3 linked regions of the Homo sapiens genome follow. The protein of the gene in region 2 interacts with the protein of the main gene of each other region in a pairwise test. Each region holds a gene or a part of one and is shown on either strand. Other genes may lie near its edges.

What was found.
Region 1: the proteins of TRIM2 (region 2) and UBE2U interact in a two-hybrid assay, tested with the Homo sapiens proteins (one large-scale study listed by BioGRID and IntAct).
Region 3: the proteins of TRIM2 (region 2) and MNAT1 interact in a two-hybrid assay, tested with the Homo sapiens proteins (one large-scale study listed by BioGRID and IntAct).

What each region holds. Positions count from the first base shown.
Region 1 is NC_000001.11:64,213,516-64,217,175, forward strand, and holds part of UBE2U (ubiquitin-conjugating enzyme E2 U), read left to right. Parts: intron 1-1,299; coding exon 1,300-1,417; intron 1,418-1,921; exon of another isoform or gene 1,922-2,010; intron 2,011-3,660. UniProt on the Homo sapiens protein: Catalyzes the covalent attachment of ubiquitin to other proteins.
Region 2 is NC_000004.12:153,336,629-153,339,976, reverse strand, and holds the end of TRIM2 (tripartite motif-containing protein 2), read right to left. Parts: 3' UTR 660-3,348; downstream 1-659. UniProt on the Homo sapiens protein: UBE2D1-dependent E3 ubiquitin-protein ligase that mediates the ubiquitination of NEFL and of phosphorylated BCL2L11. Plays a neuroprotective function. May play a role in neuronal rapid ischemic tolerance.
Region 3 is NC_000014.9:60,965,261-60,968,920, forward strand, and holds part of MNAT1 (CDK-activating kinase assembly factor MAT1), read left to right. Parts: intron 1-2,968; coding exon 2,969-3,089; 3' UTR 3,090-3,298; coding exon of another isoform or gene 3,299-3,326; 3' UTR 3,327-3,660.

The sequences.
Region 1 (3,660 bases), on a different chromosome or scaffold from region 2:
AGAACACTAATACTATAAAGCACACACTGCTTACTTATCTGTCTTCCCCTATTGGACTGCAAGCTCCCCAAAATCAGGAAACAGGTCTAATTCATCCTTGATTTCCTGGAGCATACCAAAGACAATGCTGACATTTGGTAGATATTAAATAAAATGAATGAATGAATGAACCTGAATTTTTACATTATTGCTATTATGGTATGTATATTGCCATGTGCTTAGCAACAAGGATACATTCTGAGAAATGAGTTGTTACACATTTCATCGTTGTTTGAAAATCATGGAGCGTACTTACACAAACCAAGATGGTATAGCTTAATACATACGAAGGCTATGTTATAGCCTGTTGCTCCTAGGCTACAAACCTATACAACATGTTACTGTACTAAACACTATAGGCCATTGTAACACAATGGTAAATATTTGTGTATCTAAATATAGAAAAAGTACAGTAAAAATTTGGTATTATTATCTTATGGGACCACCATGATATATGCCGTCTGTTGTTGAGTGAAACATTGTTATGTGGCACGTGAGTATGTAAACTATACAGCCTGTTTCTTTTTCACTTAACATTGTCTCTCAAGTAACTTCCATATGGTTATAATCAATATTTTAATAGCTATTCAGTATTCCTTTGAAGGTCAGTGCTGCGCAGTAGCACTTTCTGCATTGATGGAAATGTCCAATATATCTCACCGTTCAATACAGTACCTACTAGTCATATGTGGCTACTGAGCACTTGAAATGTTACCACTGTGACTAGGGAGCTGAATTTTTAATTTTATTTAATTTTAATTATTTTAAATGTAAATAACCACCTGTGACTGTGCCTACAGTGATGGGCAATACAAGTTGAGACCATAATGACTAACTACTTCTTTCTTGATAACAAATTAGATACATTTTCAATTATCACACTGTTATTCAAGGGAAGTGTACTTGAAATGTTGGTTAAAATATTTTGAATTTTAAATACACTAACCACCATCAACTAAAATTTTTATAATCTTAATTTAAATTCAATGTAAATGTATATGCTAGGAAGGAACAAGTTACAGAAAGGAACTTGTAACTTGCTTTTTGATCTATCACAGTTTTATACCGTACATTCATGAGCCTAAGGTTAGGTTTCTTGAGAGTACAGACTATGTCTCATGTTATTTTTTAATCTATTTCCAGATCCATACATAGTAAGCATTTAATACATGCTTATTGAAAGTTGTATATATTGGTTTGTCGTTTTGCTCTAAAAAAAGTTTACTTCTGAAATTATATGTTGTCTGTGTTTTCCTATAGGTTATGCTTTCTAATCCAGTGCTAGAGAATCCAGTGAATTTGGAAGCAGCCAGAATACTGGTTAAAGATGAATCTCTGTACAGAACAATTCTAAGACTTTTCAACAGGCCATTACAAAGTAAGAAGTATCTACTTTTGTTAGGTGCAGTGGCTCACGCCTGTAATCCCAACACTTTGGGAGGCTCAGGTGGGTGGATCATCTGAGGTCCGGAGTTCGAGACCAGCCTGACCAACATGGAGAAACCCTGTCTCTACTAAAATACAGAATTAGCTGGGCGTAGTGGCACATGCCAGTAATCCCACCTACTCGGGAGCCTGAGGCAGGAGAATCACTTGAACCTGGGAGGCAGAAGTTGCGGTGAGCCGAGATCATGCCATTGCACTCTAGCCCGGGCAACGAGAGTGAAACTCTGTCTCAAAAAAAAAAAGAAGTACCTACTTTTTGTTATTTGGCAATTATCAATTATACTTTAAACATTTATAGCATAGTGATCTAGGAAATAACTGTTATATAAGGGAATATTTGAAATATTTTCTGTATCCATTTTCAGTAATGAATGGTATTAAGATCTCTCCTACTGTAACTCTTTGTGAAACCAATCAGTGTGATCCTTTTTTAAAGATCATCAAAGATCTCAAGCTCCGTATCTTTAAATATTATGGTCATATGCATGGATGGTGCCAAATGAAACTAGTCCACCCATCATAAAGGTATGACATCTAATTTTGACTCTTCAATCTGTAATGGACATTTCCCAGACTTCACCTGCAGTACTCCAGATCTTACTGATTTGTACCACTTTTCTTCTTGATTAGCAAGATGTCAATGATTTTTTTCCGGAGAGTTCCCTCCCCAGGAATTCCTTCTAAGAATCCATGTGGAAATAGAGCCTGAAGCTCTTCAGTCTTTCTGCTCCACTGAGCAGTGTTTTCCTGATACCCTTGGTATCCTGCCAGCAGCCTCGTTATGACTCCTAACTCCATTGCCTCCATTGCCCCTGTGCGCTCTCTCTCTCTTTCTCTCCAGGTAGTAGAGCACTGCTTCTGGCTTCTTGTGCACAGAAGGGTTTCCCACAGCTGAGAGCTGGGCTCCTACTGACATAGTTATTTCCTTTATATCCTGCCCCACCTTCTTCTGGTAGCACACAGCAACCTTGCATAGTAGCTGGTATCATTACCTTCCCAATCAACAGGCCTTGATTTCTTATAGTACTTTTTCTCTCAGATTTACATTGCTTCTTTTTCTGTTTCCCTTCCAGGACTCCCAGTCCATTAGCTAGGTCTGTATAATTGTGACCAAGTTCAATTGCTCCTCCTCCACAGGGTTTTTGGGTCTGATACAAATCAAATGGTGTTGATCAAGCATCTTTTCCAGTACCATAGAACTTTATTCTACGACAAAGTTCTTGGGGGAGCTATTTGATCACAAGCTTAAGGTGAAGCAGTAATAGAAAATTCCCTTCTTCTAAGTATGTGTTATATACTCATTTTACCCTTCTCTGGCTTGGTGGGCTTTCATCTGGAATACCAGTAGGCTCCACTTGGAACCTCACATTTCTAAAGGCTGAAGAAACTGTATATATTTAGCCAACAGAAGAAAAGATAAAGGGCAGTTGTAAAAGCTGTTTTCAAATATTCGAAGGGATTTCCTATGGAAAAAGATTTCTTCTGGGTTGCTTCAGAAAACTAACATAGGACAAACACTGAAGTTACACGTCAGTCATACTTTCCCGGGCCTGCTGGGTTGTAGCAGAACTGAAGTTCACATACGCAGGCTTGGCCCTGCCTCGTGTCAGTACATACCTTAAATGTATCAGGGACTTTACTCCGTGATCAGTTGTCTGGAATTAATTTTATTGTCCTAAGTCTAAGCCTGGTATGTGATATGCAGACATGTAAATGTCGCTCATTACCCAAACTTTTCCCCAACATTTGTTATGTTTGCCTACCCTGAATAGCTAGGTCTTTGCCTCAGTGTATTGACAAGAAGACCAAGCTCTAAGCTCAAACCCAGTGTGGAGGTCTGATGACCTTCCCATTTCCTGACAGCCTCCTTTCCTTGTGGCCTGGCCCCTTTTCCTTTCTTAGAGGACTCACATACCCCAGACTGCCTGGGAAAGTCCTGGTATAATTATTCCCAGTACCTCCTTTCACTTGCAGTGTACCAGTTTGAACAAACGATTATCTAGCCAGTTGGGTGCCCAGCTGATCTTTCCTAAAAGCAAATGACTCTATAGTTGTGCCATTCTTAATGGTAAAGTCCATCCAGGTCCCAGTTGGCCAAACATGAGGAAGAATTGTTTGAAATAATTCAAGTTGCTTAAAAGAATGGACAAGGCCAGGCTGGCAGTTAGTAAACTC
Region 2 (3,348 bases):
CTATGCTGGATTTTTTTTAACCCTCAAGAAAACAAAACGAATTTTTATTGTGTTCCGTCATTGTTCACAATCACGCCTGTAATCCCAGCGCTTTGGAAGCCCAGGCAGGAGATTGCTTGAGCCCAGGAGTTCAGACCATCCTGGGCAAAGTAGTGACCGCATCTCTTAGAAAAAATTTAAAAAATTAGCCAGGCGTGTTGGTGAGTGACTATAGTCCCAGCTACTTGGGAGGCTGAGGTGGAAGGACTGCTTGAGCCAGGGAGGTCGAGGCTGCAGGAAGCCATGATCACACCACTGCACTCTAGCCTGGACAACAGAGCCAGAGCCAGAGCCAGACCCTGTCTCAAAAAAAAAAAAAAAAGGTTGGTAAGGTTGTTCTACTTCTATAACTTTCTAAATGTACATGTTCTACGTATGTATCAGGATTTTCCAAATTCCTACTTAAGATACATCCTAAATACTAATGGATTATTAATGTCATAGCCAACAAAAATTTTCTTGAGCTTTTCCTCACTAGTATAAATAGTCTGGTTGCAGTATTGCTATCTTCCACAGATTCCAGGATGTTCCTCAATTTCCCTTCAGGCAGAGAATATATTAAATAAATATTCACTCTGCAAATGGAGAAATATTAAATAAATAAATATTCACTCTGCAAATGGAGAAAACAAGCTTTATTATAATGATTTGAGATTTTGTGCATGGTAAAGAGATACACATGAATCCTGTTTCTCCTATGTTTCAAGACAGAATTAATTGAAAGTTTCATTGTAGACTAAAGCATCCAAAATACTGTGGTACGTATGTAGCTACGAACATACAAACACTTTGATGCACAGCGTTCATTCTTTTCTTTAAATAGGCAGTCAACATTTTGATTCATAAAAGAACAAATGACGAGAATATATCAGTATCAATGTCAGAGAGTGCAAGACTTAGTGTTCTATACATAAAACATATGAAACAGACCTATAAAGATGGAATGTACAAAATCTAAAAAGAAAACAAAGCAAAAAAAAAAAACCCCTTCATATTCATACATAGGCTTGAAAGTCTATAGAATTGAGAACGATATAAAGAATTCTATTACAAGAATACACTCCATTGATGACAGAACATTCCCATGTCATAAAGCAAAAGCATTGAGTTTAAGGCTGTGTTGCTTTCAAAAGTTAATGGAAGTGCTGTACATTCATTGGAACAACATAGCCAATTTATTAATCTATTCTAGAATATTAATAGCTTTCATACATTCTCCACAAACAGACCAATCACTGCCACACAATTCATCTTTAGAAAGTTTTTAAGCATCATGATTTGTAGCTTACTGTCATTGAAAACAAAACAAATAATTCTTTATTTATACCAAACAAATCTTTGATGGGCACTTAGTTTCCTTTATGGCAATACTAGATTTCTAGTTATCAAAAATATTAAAGTAATTATAAAGTTTAAAACCCTGCAACATTTACAGAAACCAACAGTATTACCACTTTCACTTTTAAGCTAAATTAGATAATGTTTGCATGAAATAGCTTTCATTTTTTCCTACCTGGAGATGTCTTGTTTTTAAATTATTAAATTGTCAAACTAAAAATACTCCTCCCTTTTCAGAAGCTAGTGAATAGAGAGGGTACTATAGAGTCTACAAAAAGATTTTTCCCATTTGAAGTAATCTGCAGATTACCTAATGTTTATTTACTACTTCCTCCAATTAACTAAGTAGGTATTACCAAAGCATTTCTGTTAACCCGTCAGTGCTAAGGATTCACAGATACTTGCTAGTGTACTGCTATTCCAGTTAACTCCATGTTAGGACATACCCTGTATATTTAGTAGTGGAAGCAAGTGTGTTCTAGCTGCATGGATCTGGAGTATTTATTTGCTTCAAATCTAGTCACAGTAAATTAAAATAAGGAAACTTAGGGACTTGTTTAGTTCTGGAGACTAAAGTTTGATCAAAATACTAAGTACCATTAAAAAAAATGGCAAACAGTCATAAAGGACTTGTAGTCATGTATTTCTGGATGGTCAAGTGACTCTCTGCCTCCCCATGTCCAGCAAGGGGGGCTGGGGGGTCTGTACTGGGAGGAAATGCGTCGTCACTGACCTTGAAATCCCAACCGGCAATATTTTGCCTTACGTGCCCAGGGGAAATTTGAATGAGTAATTTTTCAGTGCTACTTATCATGAATGTATGACAGGTTCTATACACTTGACAAAGAGAAATCAAACAATAATGGTAGCCCAGAAAAAAGCCACTTATTTTAATATCCTTCTCAGTTTACCAGAAACCATTTTCCATAGAATGTGACAAAATTTCATTTAAATTTTGTCTACTTGTATCATATCAGCAGCACTTTCCCCCAAAAATATGCTTACCAAGAAATACAGTAAATGCACATATGTATCCAAGTGTGAAATGTTATCTATACTTTAACATATATAATCACATATTTTTTGGAAAAAATATAGTGTTTCCTGGAGTGCTCATAGCATGTGTTTTAGCAACACATAGTGGAGCAGGTCTGAATCAAACTATTCTTTCATTCCAGTTTGTGCCAATATTGACATGTAAAAAAAATTAGCTTTGTATTCAGTCTACTATTGAGATATCTAGCCTGATAGGATATGATATGATGGCTGGTTAGATTGTAAGTTAATTTCTAAGTTCACAAATATAATTGAAATGTTGTGCAAAAAAACTCTTTAAATCAACTAGTTTTAAGATCAACAGCCTGGGACAGAAAGAATCTAAATAAAAAGCCATTTTTACTTGTGAAAATAAACTAAAATTAATGTAACCAATTTGAAAAGTTTCTTTTAAACAATCTAGACAAGAGTCTAGCCTGTCTTTTGTGCAGAACGTTAGTACGTGGCAAAATGAAATTCCCACCCCAGAATGTCAGCTCTGAGGGGGCAGCGATTTTTTACCTGTTTTGTCCATCACTGTATTTCCAGTGCCTAAAAGAGTACTTGGTACCTAGTAGGTACTCAGTAAATATGAATGTTTAAATTCAAAGATGTATCTCACTGATGTTAGGAAACAGTGTCTTCATTTAACATTCTAAAAAGTTATTGAATTTTATAGCTTTATCACGGACAGGCTCAAGTATTTTTTAAAACTCTACCTAACTAAAAAAATATTAAACCTAAATGTAAATCTTCCTGGAAAAACCTTTTTTCAGAGGTTGATTTGGGCATAATAAATTTAACAGACAATTTGAAGTAGCTAGATTTCCCTTCTAAATTTTAAGAAGTCCTATATAGAGAATGACTGAATTATAAATTAATAAGCAATAAACATCACATTCATATAATTATACATAGGGGAAATGTTTTCTTATA
Region 3 (3,660 bases), on a different chromosome or scaffold from region 2:
CTGGATTATGACTATGTTCAAGAAATACTATTTTCAAGCACTAATCATTTAGATAAAACTTTTTTTACACATTTATGGCATCAAGGAGTATGACTGTTTATAACATTTTACCTATAAAGCTGAACTGTTTTATATACTCTTTATGGAAACATGGCCATAAATTAAAAGATGCAACTGTTTTGAATATTTTACTGGTGGTCCTCTGTTTTCCTGCCAGCAGTGCAGCTGTTTCAGGTTTCTCAGGATAACATATAAAAAGCTGTATGCACACTGCAAGTTTATGCTCAAATTGCCAAGCCAGATATGGTATGACTCAACTTTCCCAGAAGCAAGCTGTACCAAAATGTGATGAATCAAAACAGTTAGTTGCACAGTGGTTTGTATTACAGCTATGAAAACCAATTCTCATTTATGATGTTTGGCTTTTCAAGGTTGACAAACATTCTACTGTGGTGCTTGAATTTTACCATAAGTGAACATCTATTGAAGCTAAGACTATGCTTTTCTTTTGAGGATCTGAGGAAAGGAAAGGGTGATACATTATCATCTGGTGTGCGGATAAAAATTAGCTGGAAACTTGTATCAGGAATGGAACATTTCATTTCCAAGTTACCTATAAAAATATTACTCACTTATTATTTGTATGATAGTTATTGAATTCCCTGTGAAGCCAGGTTAATTTTTAGACCTTTCTGAGGTAACTTAACATTTACTTCATTTCTCATGCATCAGAATCTTAACAGTTGATACTTTATTGTGTCTTGGAAAGTAATAAGCAGATAACTTTATGGCCATGGGGTAGGTGTGGTGAATCCCTATTTCAATCCTATGCGACCTAAGGTTCTATCAAGAGTTTAACAACGACTATTTTTCTTTTTTTTTTTTAAACAGGGTCTCACTCTGTTGCCCAGGCTGGAGTGCAGTGGTGCGATCTCCGCTCACTGCAACCTCTGCCTCATGGACTGAAGTGATTCTCTTGCCTCCCAAGTAGCTGGATTACAGGCACCTGCCACTGTGCCTGGCTACTTTTTCTATTTTTAGTAGAGACGGGGTTTCACCATGTTGGCCAGGCTGGTCTGAAACTCCTGTCCTCAGGTGATCCACCTGCCTCGGCTTCCCAGAGTGCTGGGCTCACAGGTGTGCGCCACCACACCCAGACAACAATGACTAATTAATAATAGTAGTCTCTAAAGTGGGATGTGTCCCATGAGGATATGTAAGATACAGTATATGGAGAAAATATTAAAACATTCATTCATTAATTTATTTAGAGATGGAGTCTCGCTGTGTCACCCAGGCTGGAGTGCAGTGGCGAAATCTCGGCTCACTGCAACCTCCACCTCCTGGGTTCAAGTGATTCTCCTGCCTCATCCTCCTGGGTAGCTGGGATTACAGGCATGTGCCACCACGCCCAGCCAAGTTTTTGTATTTTTAGTAGAGATGGGGTTTTGCCATATTGGCCAGGCTGGTCTTGAACTTCTGACTTCAGATGATCCGCCCACCTTGGCCTTCCAAAGTGCTGGGTTACAGGTGTGAGCCACTGTACCCAGCCAGAACTTTTATTTAAATATTTTTATTTCATCCTTTTTCTATTTATATTTTTATATTACACTGACTATATTAGTATCTTATGTATATAATTATATATAGTAACATATAGTACATTAGTATTCTACATAAAACATATCTGAGATATGTTTTATGGCTATAAAATACTATCAAAAATGTTTTTGTTTTTGTTCAATAAATATTCTCTTCTTCCTTCCGCTTTCCCCTTTCGCCCTTGGCAGAGAAGCAAATAATTGAGTTAAAACCTTGATTTGTGGCAATGTGAATAAATTATAGCTAATTCCAGGAACTTAGCTGCATCCTACCTTGACCCATTTTTTCTACTGGACTCTTATATTGCTCTATATGTTTTAGCTACACAGGTTTATTAAACATGGATACAGATGAAAAACAGACTTGTTATGTTAGAAGTTATAAGTTGCTCATGCATTAAGATTTTGACACACAGGAAGTTTGAATGAATGAGTGAAAAAGGTTCCAAGTTATTAAAATGTTCTGGTACCTGATTTATTCATTTGCCATACCAGTAATTCTAAGGTGGGTGAAGCTCCTTTACTTCCTGAAGAAACAAGTTAGTTTCTTAAACTAAGCATTAAAAGAAAGCTGGAATTATTTGTTTCCAGAAGTGTTAGTAGTCATGCTAAGTTGCCCTTCTTTGGCTAGATTGTCCAATGTTTTTTAGGCCTGTTTTGTCTATTTTTGTCAAGATATAAATGTTTAATTGCTTTAAAAAAACTGTGTGGTTGCAGAAAAAAATTGTACTGTTATATTGTTGAGATCAATGAGACTTTTCTGTATTTACTTTTTCAGACATTATTTTGAACTCAGGCTCAGTCTCAGAGATTTCTTCAACATGTAATTTTCTAATGTTTCCTTTCCTGCAAGGAATGAGACAATATATTCTTGGAATATTAAAGTACTTTTGAAGTAACTCATACGTTTTCTCCCCTCTTCCATTTGTTTAGCTATTGAGGGTTTGCTTTAAAACAAATTTATGTAGAAATATCAGTACTATAATAGTATTGTGATACTGTGTATTTCTTAAGCATATGCCAGGAAGGAGAGCATTAGTTAGGTGTCCAAAAAACAGCCAACAAAACAAATCAGCTCTGAAAATCGTGAAGCAGTGAATATTTTAGAATTATTTTTGAAACCTCTTTCAGAACTGTTTTTAGACCCCGTGGTAATTTGCTATGTAATTTAATACTAGTTTAGGCACTCCATGTACAGTTGGTATGTTTCCTTTTGAAAGATAATAATCTATTTATAATAAAAGTCTGAATATTTCAATCTCGGAATTCCTCTTTAAAACTTGAATCAGTTTTACTATTGCTTTTTAAAATGTTACCTATTTATATTTGCTTTGTATATCAATGCTACACTTCTTGTTTTGTTTTAGGTATTTAAACCATGTCAGAGCTGCCTCACCACAGGACCTTGCTGGAGGCTATACTTCTTCTCTTGCTTGTCACAGAGCACTACAGGATGCATTCAGTGGGCTTTTCTGGCAGCCCAGTTAACCATTTATAAGATTTGGACCTTGGAGCTGAACCAGGGAGCTAGCAAAAGTAAAGCAGACTTATAAAATTATAGCTATGTGCAGCTGCACAACACAGTCCTTCCACTAGCAGCTGTGTTAAAGTATTTATAAGGAGAAAATTTCAGAACTAAGTTGAGTAATATAGGGGATATATATTTGTGAAAAATAATTTTTACTTATATTTTTCAGAGGATTTGACACGATAAGCCTCATCTGATGGAAGAGAGGAATAAATAATTCACCTATATGTGTTTGAGGTTGTGACAGACTTATAAAATCTTTTTAAAAAATAAAGCTATAATTTATATTAAGTTCTGTGGTTTTTCTCTTATTACAGTGTTTTACTTGAACACATTTTAAATACCATTTTGATTACAACATTTACTGTTAATATCCAAGTCTATTATTTCTTCTCATAAAATGTTCCCCTTTTTCCTAATGTCTTGTTAATACTAGTCCAGACAAGTGGATATATTTCCTTTGACCAAGTTATGGCAAGAAAAACCTGACCCATGATAATGTCATTCCCTCAATACTAAGGACTCAATGCC